Regions from separate parts of the Homo sapiens genome. Here regions 1, 2 and 4 are each linked to region 3. Evidence: fine-mapped expression QTL. A gene starts in region 3. Each other region holds a variant in brackets. All regions are shown on one strand. Distances are between the middles of the regions. Region 1 overlaps MACROH2A1 (macroH2A.1 histone). Region 2 has its middle 22 kb from the start of DCANP1. Region 3 holds the start of MACROH2A1 (macroH2A.1 histone). Region 4 overlaps MACROH2A1 (macroH2A.1 histone).

Region 1 (2,682 bases), 64 kb after region 3:
TGCCTCATGTGAGGGAGAGCTCCAGCTGAAATAGGCGGGTTGGCCCAGCGCTTTGGACACCAACACGCCCACAGGCTCAGGCGGATCTGTGACTGTAGATCTGCCAATGAACAAAGAGCCTACCCATGAGAGCTGGCCCCAGACTCACCCTCAGTATCCTTAACTGTAAAATGGGACCAGTAAGGGATGTGAATCCAGGGCCACTGGCTCTAAACCCAGGTTTTCACTAGACCAGGCAAGCTGCCCATCTCCTCCGGGGTCCCCTGGGCTACCCACATGCCATGCTGACCAGGAGCAGCCTCAGGCACACCACAGAGCAGTGAGGGCCAGTCTTGCCAGTCCTGATTTCACATTTTTAAGTCCAGAGCACCTACCTCCAAAAATTGCCACGACATTTATTTGAAGTGGAAATGTGTGTGGATTCAAACACATTTGGCTTGGAAACTTGGATGATAGCCCAGAGTTGAAGAGCCCACAGCTCCCTGCGTTCTGGCCTCTGGGGTGGTACCGCTGGTGTGTGTTAGAGGGTGGATTCCTGGGCGGTGGCCCCTGGTGTGAAGGGGTAACTCTTCTGTGTGGGTGGATAGAGGTCAGTGCCTTCCCAGAGAACCTGCAGCCATCCCCTGGGGCTGACATCAAGAGCCTGGGCTATGGCTCAGGCACTGTGCTAGTCAAAGGTATCATGGAAAAAGAAAATCAGGAGCTTACACTGTACTTCGGGGGCTTAATGCACACCACAAAACACTATTCTGTTTGCTGGCTACTGCCTTCTCTAAAAGCACATAGCACATCCTTCTGCAGGTGCCAGCTCTCTGCCCAGTTGTCTGTCCCCCATCCCATCTTCTGGGCACTGGGCTTTCCCACACTGGCGTACAAGCAGACACGGGGCTCAACAGACACCGACCCAACACAAGGCAAGCTGCAGCACAGAGGGAGGTGGCCTGTAAGGTGGGGCAGGTCCTGCAGCCCCCGTGGCATCCCAGTTGCTGAGTGCTTATCTTCTCTTCTCCAGGAACGGTTTTCCAAAGCAGACAGCAGCTCAGCTGATTCTGAAGGCCATCTCCAGTTACTTCGTGTCTACAATGTCCTCTTCCATCAAAACGGTGTACTTCGTGCTTTTTGACAGCGAGAGTATAGGCATCTATGTGCAGGAAATGGCCAAGCTGGACGCCAACTAGGCTGAGCAATGACAGAACCAGCTGCACCATGTACCCCACCTTCAGTTTAAAAGAAAAAAAAAATCCCCTTCACTCCTACTGGGAGGTGGGACCCCTTTCATTTTCAGTTTTGCTCATCTAGGGAAAATAAGGCTTTGGTTTCCAGTTTAATTGTTTTTGACCTTC[T/ATTTTT]AAAATGTTTTTATGTTAGCACTGATAGTTGGCATTACTGTTGTTAAGCACTGTGTTCCAGACCGTGTCTGACTTAGTGTAACCTAGGAGATTTTATAGTTTTATTTTAATGAAACCCTGATTGACGCACAGCAGTGGGGAGAACAGCGTCTTTTACCTGTCACCGAAGCCAGGAAGCCCCGTTTGTAAGCGTGTGTTGTGGTGCTTTATTGTACATCCTCCAGTGGCGTTCTTTTTACTCTAATGTTCTTTTGGTTTCCCCCCTCAGAAGAATCATGAATTTGCAACAGACCTAATTTTTGGTTACTTTTTGTCTTATTGATGGATTTGAAAATGAAAGATTTAATAAGGCAAAGCAGAATCTGTTGTCCTTAATTATATTTGCAATTTGGAATTTGTGTGAGTTGATTTAGTAAAATGTTAAACCGTTGTTGTGACTGGTGTGTTCCAGTTATTGTGCCCGTGAGTCACAGGTCTTAAGTCGGCTTCTGCAGTCCCAGGATGTGGGGGCAGGGCAGTCCATCCCCCTCAACCCCCACCCTGCTCCCACAACTCCTTGGATGCTCCACAGTGTTCACTGCAACCTGGGTGGGTGTGGGCCATCTGCTGGCCCCAGTGGTTTGTAGAGAGAATTTTTATAAAGTCTCACCTTTTGGTTCTGTGTGACCCTTGGGCCAGGGTGTTATCCCCATTCCCCGTTCCACAGATGAAGGAGGGAGTGTATCCAAAGCCGTGCAGGTGGCATGTGGCAGGCTCCAGACCCTGAGCCCAGCTCTCTCCTACCATTGTCCCCTTCTGACAGTCTGTGACTTAGGGCTGGGCCTGGCCACTTGCTGATGAAGCTGCTGGAGCCTCATTCCCTCTGCCGAGGCTGCTGGGTCTGTCATCCCTGCAGGACAGGATCCCTGGCAGAAGGGTGCGTGGAGCTTTCCAAGGAGAAGCCGCCACAGCCAAGGCTCCTGGGATGTGCTGGCAGCTTTCACGTGCCTTCTCACCGCCAAGGCTGTTGAGGGATGTTGATTATCTAGGAAGACCTCAGCCAAGCCAGAGTAGCTAAAATATATGTTAGCAAAACATGGACACTTTTTGCTTCAAAGGGCACTTACACCTTAACCTAAATTTGCCTAAAATACACAGAAGACTCTTTCCGTCTCTTGAAAGAAAGAAAGAGGAAAAAAGAAAAGAGAAAGAAAAGAAAGAAGCCTGCGTCTAAAGCAGACTTTAACCAGGAAGAAATATGCAGTACACTTCATATCGTGGCCGAATGTAAAGGATCATTTTTCCTTCCCAAACTGTGCCTAATACAAACTCCTCAAAACAGAAGGTCCTAGACCATCAC
Region 2 (2,682 bases), 26 kb before region 3:
TCTGAGAAGCTACAGTGGCCTCTTGCCTGTTACCTATTGACTCATAAATCAGAAACAGTTTTAACAAGGGCAATTCACCTCTTTCCCAGGTCATTAGGGCAGCAGATCAATGGAGAAAGATTCATTCTTATAAAATGTGAGATTTGGTAGTCCTTTTTAAAAAACTATTGTTCTGTCTCCTCCCTTGTTGACAAAGAGCATGTAATAGCAACGTTCTGGACCCCTTTAATACAGGGGCTAACAGTTCTGTACCACCAGAGGGCGATACTATGTAATAGCTGGTGCACATAATACCTGAATCCTCATGACAGTGAGAAATGGAGTCAACATTTATAGAAAGGGGCCAGAGGCAGACACTAGAATTGTGGACAGGTTCCCGAACAATAGGATGGGAGACAGCACAGAAAGCTCCTTTCACACCTACCCCCCAGCTTCCATCTCCTTTGCAATTGTCCTCACAACTAACTCTGCCCATATTTTTCCAACACGTATAAAAATTCTCCAGCTGAAAGACCTGCTTGCATAAGGCAAGGAAAAAATGTGCTCAAGCTACCACCTACCAAAACATCCAAACACGTAGAGCTGTTAGAAAATGAAGACACTGAGAAAAAACAGAAAGAAGAAGACAGGCACACAACGGGACAGGCCCCATTTTGTTCTCTGTTGGGTCTGGGGCCTGCAAGAGTCTACAAGAAAACAGCAGTTTCTCCAGCATTACCCTGTGGTTTCCTGTTAAAACCAAGGGTTGAGAGTTCTGCTTCCTAGAATGGGGAGCTAGCTTTTTTCCAGGCCAAGCCTTTAGCTGAAAATAACTAGAAAAGGACAAAAATATGTCATTTAATCTGTGTGATGGCATTGAAGAGTAATGACAGACCTCCAGAAGCAAGATCTAGGGGAGAAGGAAGCCCAATTTTCTCTTCTTTCTTTCTTTCCTTCTTTCTTTCTTTCTTTTTTTTTCTCTTAAGACAGAGTTTCACTCTTGTTGCCCAGGCTGGAGTGCAATGGCGTAAT[C/G]TCAGCTCACTGCAACTTCCACCTCCCGGGTTCAAGCGATTCTCCTGCCTCAGCCTCCTGAGTAGTTGAGATTACAGGTGCCCACCACCATGCCCTGCTAGTTTTCTTATTTTTAGTAGAGATGGGGTTTCACCATGTTAGCCAGGCTGGTCTTGAACTCCTGGTCTTGGCCTCCCAAAGTGCTGGGATTATAGGCGTGAGCCACCACGCCCAGCCAAGGAAGCCCAATTTTCAGCAGTCCTTCTCCTTGGGATATTTGCCATTTCAAACTTTTTGGTTGAAAAGCTGGTCAGAAAGGTCCAGCTGAGAAGCTGAGAAGAACTTTTGGCCATCTCTCACCTGGGTGCAGGTACAAAAATTAGAATTCAAGATTTGCCAATCAGGAGAGGCTATGATAAGCAGCTCAGGTTTTAAGCTGGGATCTCGAATATCTACAGCATAGGAATAAGAGAATCTTGGCCCAGGTTTCCTAGAATGCAGAGCCCAAAGAAAAAGCTTGCATGCTTCCTAGGAAATACAATTGCAGGGAAGCTGGAGTGAGGAAGAAAGGTGAGTGAAGCAGAGTAGGATGAACATATATAAGGAAGTGGATCACTGAGCTTTACAACAATCACAGCTGACTGCTCCATTTCATGGGAAATGCTATGTGTCTCTGAACAGTCCTTCCAAGGGTATGCAGGTTGAGAATTTTCCTGCCAGTGCCTTGCATCTCTTGTCCCCTAGAGTAAAAGTTCACTCCATAGAGGGTTAACTCCTACATTTCCATATTATACGCCAATCCCTTTAGCAGTGCCAAGACAGACATATCCCACACCCTTTACATCTGGGTGTAAAAGCTGTAGGGGAAGCCAGAGACACTTCACAGCAGACTCATGTGTTAGAATAATGCTGACTTGAATGCCTTTTTCAGAGTCAGTAACCCTTGTGTTGGCCAGGGCTGAACAGGTAACCAATAGCCCTAAAGACAGGCGAAACTCATAGGATCTGAGAAAGAATGTAAGAGGTATTTGATACAACGAGTGGACCAGAACTAGACCAACTCTAGCCAAATCTAGCTTCCAATATTAAATCATTTCAATCTCTGATTGGATTATGGAGATCTGCCCCTGGAAAGGCAAGACTAAGATAAAGTCCAGTGAGGGACTCCCTCTGGGTGCAAAATGCAAGGGGGCTCAAAAAAAACTTAATACTTGTCATAAATAATCTATAATTGCAATATTTTAAAAATCAAAATTAATGCAAAATATTTATGACAAAGAAATATCAAAATGTTTGGAAAATGGTGTTTTGATTGGAAACTGCAAGATTAATGACAAAAGGAACTGCGCAGAAATAAGAAACTTTACTAGTGAAGCTGTTCCTCACAGGGATATAGGTTAACAATTCTGAACCTGCTGCACATATATGATGGGAATGAACAAATGAGTAAATGAAACAGAGAGAGGGGGTGGAAGCCAGGTTTCCCACTGTTAGAGCTAGAGGTTGCAGAGACGCATGTGGGGAAGGCTGGAATGAAGCATGTGGTTGTAGATTAGTGCAGACAGCAGTATGAACTCATGAGTAGCTTAAAATAGATACAGATGGAGAGAGACAGAAATAATTGCAGACATGTATGTATATAAATATATATGTGGGTTATTACATATGTACATATACTTCCTAGCTCTGTCT
Region 3 (2,682 bases):
TTCTCCGCCTTATTTTTCTCCACCCCATGGAGACCCTCTGACACATTCTCCCGTTTGTCTGTCTTTCCCCCACGAGACTGCAAACTACAGGAGGGCAGAGATTTCTGCCTGTTCTCTTGGCTGTTTCATATCCAGCACCCAAATCGATGTATGACACAAAATACGTTCTCAGTACTTAATCGAATTAACGAATGCATGAATGGCAGGTATTGGACATTGTTTTGCAAACTCTTAAAGTAAGGTGTAAAGCATCCCGGTGAGGTGGAGGTTACTGCCGCTGCGATTCCCGCGCAGCCTGAGGACTGGGGGGTGGGGGTGGGGGTCTCTAATTACCTCCATAATCCCCAGTAGCGGCACTTTAAACTTCACATCAACCCTGAGGGATGTGTATTATTATCCAAATTTAGTTCACAGCTGGATGGAGAAGTGGCTTCCGGCTCCACACTTTGGAGGGAGGGGAGTAGAGGGCAGGCCCCCATTTAAGTACCCGGGATGGGGCACCAATGCCTTCAGGCGGTAAACCAATTTAGGAAGACGTGGCGGGCTTTGTGGCGGCTCCTCCTCTTTCGGCCTGTCCGCAGTTTTTAAAAAACGTGTGTGATGATAAGGAATCACTGTCTACATTAGTAATTCCCAACTTGGGTCCGAAAGTGAACTTTTGCTGAAGCGAAGTAGCTAACCGCTTCCATGTGCAAGGCAGGTTCCAGACTTCGGGGTGAGGAGGATTAACTGAAGGACCCCAGGGGAACCGGGTGCGCAGTAATTGATCTTGGGGCAGACCAGGGCTTGGCGGTGGCCTGTATCTAAAGACAGCGGGGTCTCTGAGGCGGGGCAGGGGGGAGTTGGCATTGACTGGGGAGGGAAGAGCGATCGCTGGTAACAGCCATTGTGCCTTCCCACTGGGTTAGTGGGAAGGTTCCTAAAGATGCCGTGGCAGCGACAGTCCCGTGCTCAGAGCCAGGCACACAGTAGGCGTTCACTCGAGACGCAGAGTCTGGGACGCGCCCTGAAGAAGCTCCTCTCCAGGGGCCTGGCCCTTCCCAAGGACTGGGCTCTGGGCGTCCCCGGGGTCATGGGTCAGACCTCGCGTCCGGGGTGCGGGCTGGTGCCTGGGCGCAGAGCGGCCGGCGTCAACGGGTAGGGCGCGGGCCCGGGGTCAAGGCCGGGGCGCCGGGCGGCACGGGCGCGGAGGCCGGACGCTCGGGGCCGCGAAGGGATGTGACGAGCGGCGCGCTGTGCATTGTGGGAAGCCGGCCGCGAGGACTGGTTCCAGTTCACTCGGCAGCGGCGCCGGGCGGAGGGGGAGAGCGCGGGCCGCGCGGGCGGGAAGCGAAGAGGCGGGCGGGCCAGCGAGGAGCGCGGAGAGAAAAGGCGCGAGCGGCCAGGAGGGCTCAGGCCGAGACACCTTGCAGCTGCCGCCGCCGCCACCGAGCCGCCGCGTAAGTGCCGCGCGGGCCCCCTTGCCGCACTCCCTGTCCCCGCCGCTCGGGTCCGGCCGCGGGTGCCCGGGAGCGGCCCGGCCTGGCGCGCACCGGTGTGGTGCGGGCCGGGCTCGGGCCGCCGGGTTCGGTGTGGCCCACGCCGGGTCCTCGCGCGTGCACTACGTCCTCCCAGGCCTTGTCGGGCCGCGCGGGATTCCCTTTGGTTTTGTTCAAAAAAGAAACCTGGAAACCAACTTCTCTTCGAAACGCATCCCCCTGCCCGCGCCTGGGCGCTTTTGTGGGAAAAAAGCGGTGCTGGCGCCTACCCTGGCGACCCTTCCTGGGGCGGGCTCACGGGCCAGGCCCGAGGCCGCAGGAGGCCCCGCGGCGCTGGCTAGGCAGTCTGGGCCTGGGCACCCGGGAGCTGCTGTGAGCAGAGTTGTACTTGGTGAGGCCCCCGCCGGCCCGCGAGTTGCCGGCCCCGGCACAATAAGTCGGGCCCGAGCCCCGGGGGGCCGAGGTGTAGGCGTCTGGCTCGCTATCTGCAGGGAGGGGAAGGCGGGGGCTACTCGCGGGATTGAAGCCGGGCTGGTGCGGGGGACCGGGTTGGGGAGTGGTCCAAGGATGGGCTGGAGAGGGGCCACGGGAACCCCCGCTGCTCCCGATTGTCTCGGTATCAGCCTTTTGTTTGCTTTGTGGTAGGAAGGGTTTGCTTTTTTTAAAAGGTAACTCCGGAAGGCTGTAGGCTTCCCCGGGTGGAGAAGGCCAGCAGGAAAGAGCCTCGCTGGGGGTGGGGTGGAGTGGGGAGGTGAGTGTGCAGGATGCTGCTGGCAGTGTCACCTGACAACAGGTGTGCGACATGGCGCTCCCTACCCCCACTCCTGCAGGGGCCACAGATCACTCAAGGAGTTGGTCAGTACATTGCTTGAAAGGTTCTTTTAGACAAGATGTTAGGGGAAATGTTTCTGAGTTTCAAAGTGAGAGACTTCTGTACAAACAACTGGGACAAACCTTGAATTCAACAATTACAATGACTATAAAGGCCTTGTAAGATTTTAATGACCCAGTAAACAGCACATAAGAATAGACAATTAGAGGGGGCACTCCTGCTAGCTTCCCTCTTTTCTTCCACCTTTGTGGTTTGAGGTTTTACCGTTAAAGTAGGGGGTAAGGGAAGTGTTTTGTTCCAAAGCTCCCTGCTCCAGGGAGTCGGGCATTTTTTAACAGTCTTAGGTTTGAATGGGAGACTCGAGTTGTAAAT
Region 4 (2,682 bases), 57 kb after region 3:
ACTAGCTGCTGTCAGCGCAGGCCATGGCCTGCCTGCCAAGTTTGTGATCCACTGTAATAGTCCAGTTTGGGGTGCAGACAAGTGTGAAGAACTTCTGGAAAAGACAGTGAAAAACTGCTTGGCCCTGGCTGATGATAAGAAGCTGAAATCCATTGCATTTCCATCCATCGGCAGCGGCAGGTAGGGGCACATGCTTGTTACGTATCGGTCATGGGTGTGTCTCTCTGCGCACACATGGCCCATAATTGTGGTGCTCTCACTCTGTGCAAGGCCCACGGAGGCTGCCTTAACCAAGGAGACCAGAAGCACAACACAGGGAAGAATGCAGACATTAAATGATGGTGAGGGACAATTAGAGAGACCCAAATCCCAAGGATGATATAAAACTTAAGTTTTGATAGCAAATGTCATCACAGAAGGGGAACCCAGTGTGTACTGGGACCACAGAAATGGTACCTCAGAGAGTAAGTTTTGAGGGGCACAGTGACTTGGGTGGAGAAGATCTGGAGGCGTGAATACAGGGATACAAACGAACAGCTTGGCTGTCTCAGAATAAGGCTATAGCTGTGTTATGGTCTGTCCCCCAAACCACAGTATTCTTTGGATAAAGCCCTCTGCCCCTTTCCTTTCTACTCACAAGTATATTTCACCTCCTGAGAACCTGCATCTCTACCTGACTCCCTGTCTTACTGCCCTAGGGTAACCCTGCTGGCCTGCTAATGAGGTAATGGGACCTGGTGGAACGGAATGGGGAATTACGTGAGATTGAAACAGGGCTGGGCCCTACTCCACTTCCTGTCCCAGAAAATCCCCAGGTAGACTCACCAAGGTCTTCACGACCAACACAGTTGCCCCTAAGACATACACATACCCGGAGGACCACCACAGGAGAAGTCTAGTTTTTCGACAGCTGATGATGCAGGTAGGGCTCAGGGCAACCCCCACAATACCTACCTGGTTGTACACCCCACACATGTCAGCAAATAACCTATCAGGTTCCTGCCTGTTGGAGCAGCACTGCACTCTGGCTTAGGGGTCAGGCCTGGAGTTGCATCCTGGCTTGGCCACTAACCCGGTGAGTGATGACATGTAAATTAACCCCCATTCTGAGAAGTTGGCATAATAATCCCCCCATGCAGTATCTCAGGGTTGCTCTAGAAATTAAAGGAGCTCTTAGAAGGCAGAGTGCTTTCAGAAGTGTGTCCCATGATGCAGACATGAGGACCTGTCAGGGCAGAGCCACCTCTGAGAT[T/C]GTGTCCCACTGCCCATTGCTAGGGTCCTCCCTACCAAGGGTCTAAGTCCAAGAGTCCAAGGCCTCTGGAAGGCTCGAGGTCTGCATTGGGCACTGAAGCAAAGAGAAACTGGCCTTTAGAGGCTGTAGCTGTTAACAACTTGCGCCCAAGAGGAGCCATAACCTGGGGTTCTGTATTGGCAGGTGGCTTGCTTTGGACAGAGTACCTGCCACTGCTCCTGGGGCTTCCCATCCCAGCTTGTGAGCCTTCTGGGGTCTCTGCCCATCAGCCCCTCCCAGCACCCAAGGAAGGCAGGGCTGTGCAGCATCAACTGCCTATGACACTGCAGGCTGTCCCTTCTGGGCGAGCCTGAGCAACAGTCCTCAGAACCATGTCCTGAACTGACAGCTGCTCTCTGCAAAGCACTTTCCTTCCAAACTTTCTAGAGGATAGAGAGTAGATTTTGCCATTTTCCGCTTAGGCAGGCCTCGTGATTTTGCCTCCTGCATGCTGCCATCACTGAGGTCCCACACCTCAAGTACTGGTGGCAGAACTAGTACAGAGTGGGCTTCCTGTCACTTGACATTCTGCCTAGTAAAAGGCCTTGTCCACAGGCAGATGGGCACTGCCACCGTTCCCCAGGGCTTTCTATGGCCAAGGCCATGTGTGACTGGCAGGACCCACCAGTACCAGGCTCTGGGGAAAGATCTCTGGTTGCACCTGAACCTTCTCTGGAGCCTGTATCACTGCCCGCCACCCGCCGCCACCCCCACTTCTCCCAGTCAAGGGCAAAACAGCAGAATGAGCATTTCCCCAGCAACCCCTCACCAGTTGTTGAGCTATGGGCAGGCTTGCCTCCCCCTTCCCTGGCCTCACATCTCTGGGCTGTCTGGTCCTGGGGTTCTGTGAGTGAGGCCCCTCAGCTCTCCTATCCTGTGTGACCTTTGGTTAAATGAATCAGCCTCTCTGCCCTGGTCTGCCTTATCAGCAAGTGAGGCTATAGGGACTGCCCATCCTCACAAATGGTTCTGAGGCTCAGTTAATTAGTGCTTTCAATGCACTTTGATCTGCTCTGATGAAAGGTGCTTCCGCAGAGGGAGGCAATAGGAAACTTTATTGGAGGTAATAATTTCACAACCTTTCATATGGGTATTGGGAAATTTTTAATTGAAGCATAAAAGTAATTCTCATAAAAGAGCATCTGTTATTACAAACTTATTTACATTTTTCATGGAGTAAAAAGTAGGAATAAAAATAATCAATTGAAAGCTTGAAGAGGGGGAAATGCCTAAGGCAGCACATGTGTACAGCTACCCAGGCCACATCTGCCAGGCAGACCTCACCCCATAGAGCTGTGTAAACAGCTGCCCTCTCTTTCATGAGTAAAAAAAAATGGGATTACACCAGAGCCGGCCAGTAAATCACAGTGGGTTTTAGGAGGGGAAATAAA

The links. PIP is the estimated chance that this variant, and not a neighbour inherited with it, causes the effect.
Region 1: its variant is fine-mapped to the expression of MACROH2A1 in whole blood (INTERVAL, PIP above 0.99). The same link has a PIP of 0.9 or more in hippocampus, pancreas, sun-exposed skin, tibial artery, tibial nerve and unexposed skin.
Region 2: its variant is fine-mapped to the expression of MACROH2A1 in whole blood (TOPMed, PIP above 0.99).
Region 4: its variant is fine-mapped to the expression of MACROH2A1 in whole blood (TOPMed, PIP 0.96).

Annotation. Positions count from the first base shown.
Region 1 is chr5:135,333,472-135,336,153 of GRCh38, reverse strand. It overlaps MACROH2A1 (macroH2A.1 histone), which reads left to right. Exons shown (of 9, transcript NM_138610.3): 9 at 1,013-1,773. The coding sequence ends at 1,178. It overlaps PITX1-AS1 (PITX1 antisense RNA 1), which reads right to left. Exons shown (of 6, transcript NR_161235.1): 4 at 1,993-2,396. Among named protein-coding and RNA genes, the nearest start is that of MACROH2A1, 64 kb to the left of the region's middle. The variant T/ATTTTT (reference allele first, on the strand shown) is at 1,344.
Region 2 is chr5:135,423,862-135,426,543 of GRCh38, reverse strand. No RefSeq gene overlaps it. Among named protein-coding and RNA genes, the nearest start is that of DCANP1, 22 kb to the left of the region's middle. RefSeq lists an enhancer at 337-386. The variant C/G (reference allele first, on the strand shown) is at 1,012.
Region 3 is chr5:135,397,819-135,400,500 of GRCh38, reverse strand. It overlaps MACROH2A1 (macroH2A.1 histone), which reads left to right and starts at 1,270. Exons shown (of 9, transcript NM_138610.3): 1 at 1,270-1,439. RefSeq lists enhancers at 13-518, 519-1,024 and silencers at 925-1,384, 1,395-1,564, 1,875-1,934.
Region 4 is chr5:135,340,758-135,343,439 of GRCh38, reverse strand. MACROH2A1 (macroH2A.1 histone) reads left to right here. Exons shown (of 9, transcript NM_138610.3): 8 at 6-180. It overlaps PITX1-AS1 (PITX1 antisense RNA 1), which reads right to left. Exons shown (of 6, transcript NR_161235.1): 6 at 1-285. Among named protein-coding and RNA genes, the nearest start is that of MACROH2A1, 57 kb to the left of the region's middle. RefSeq lists an enhancer at 1-1,001. The variant T/C (reference allele first, on the strand shown) is at 1,253.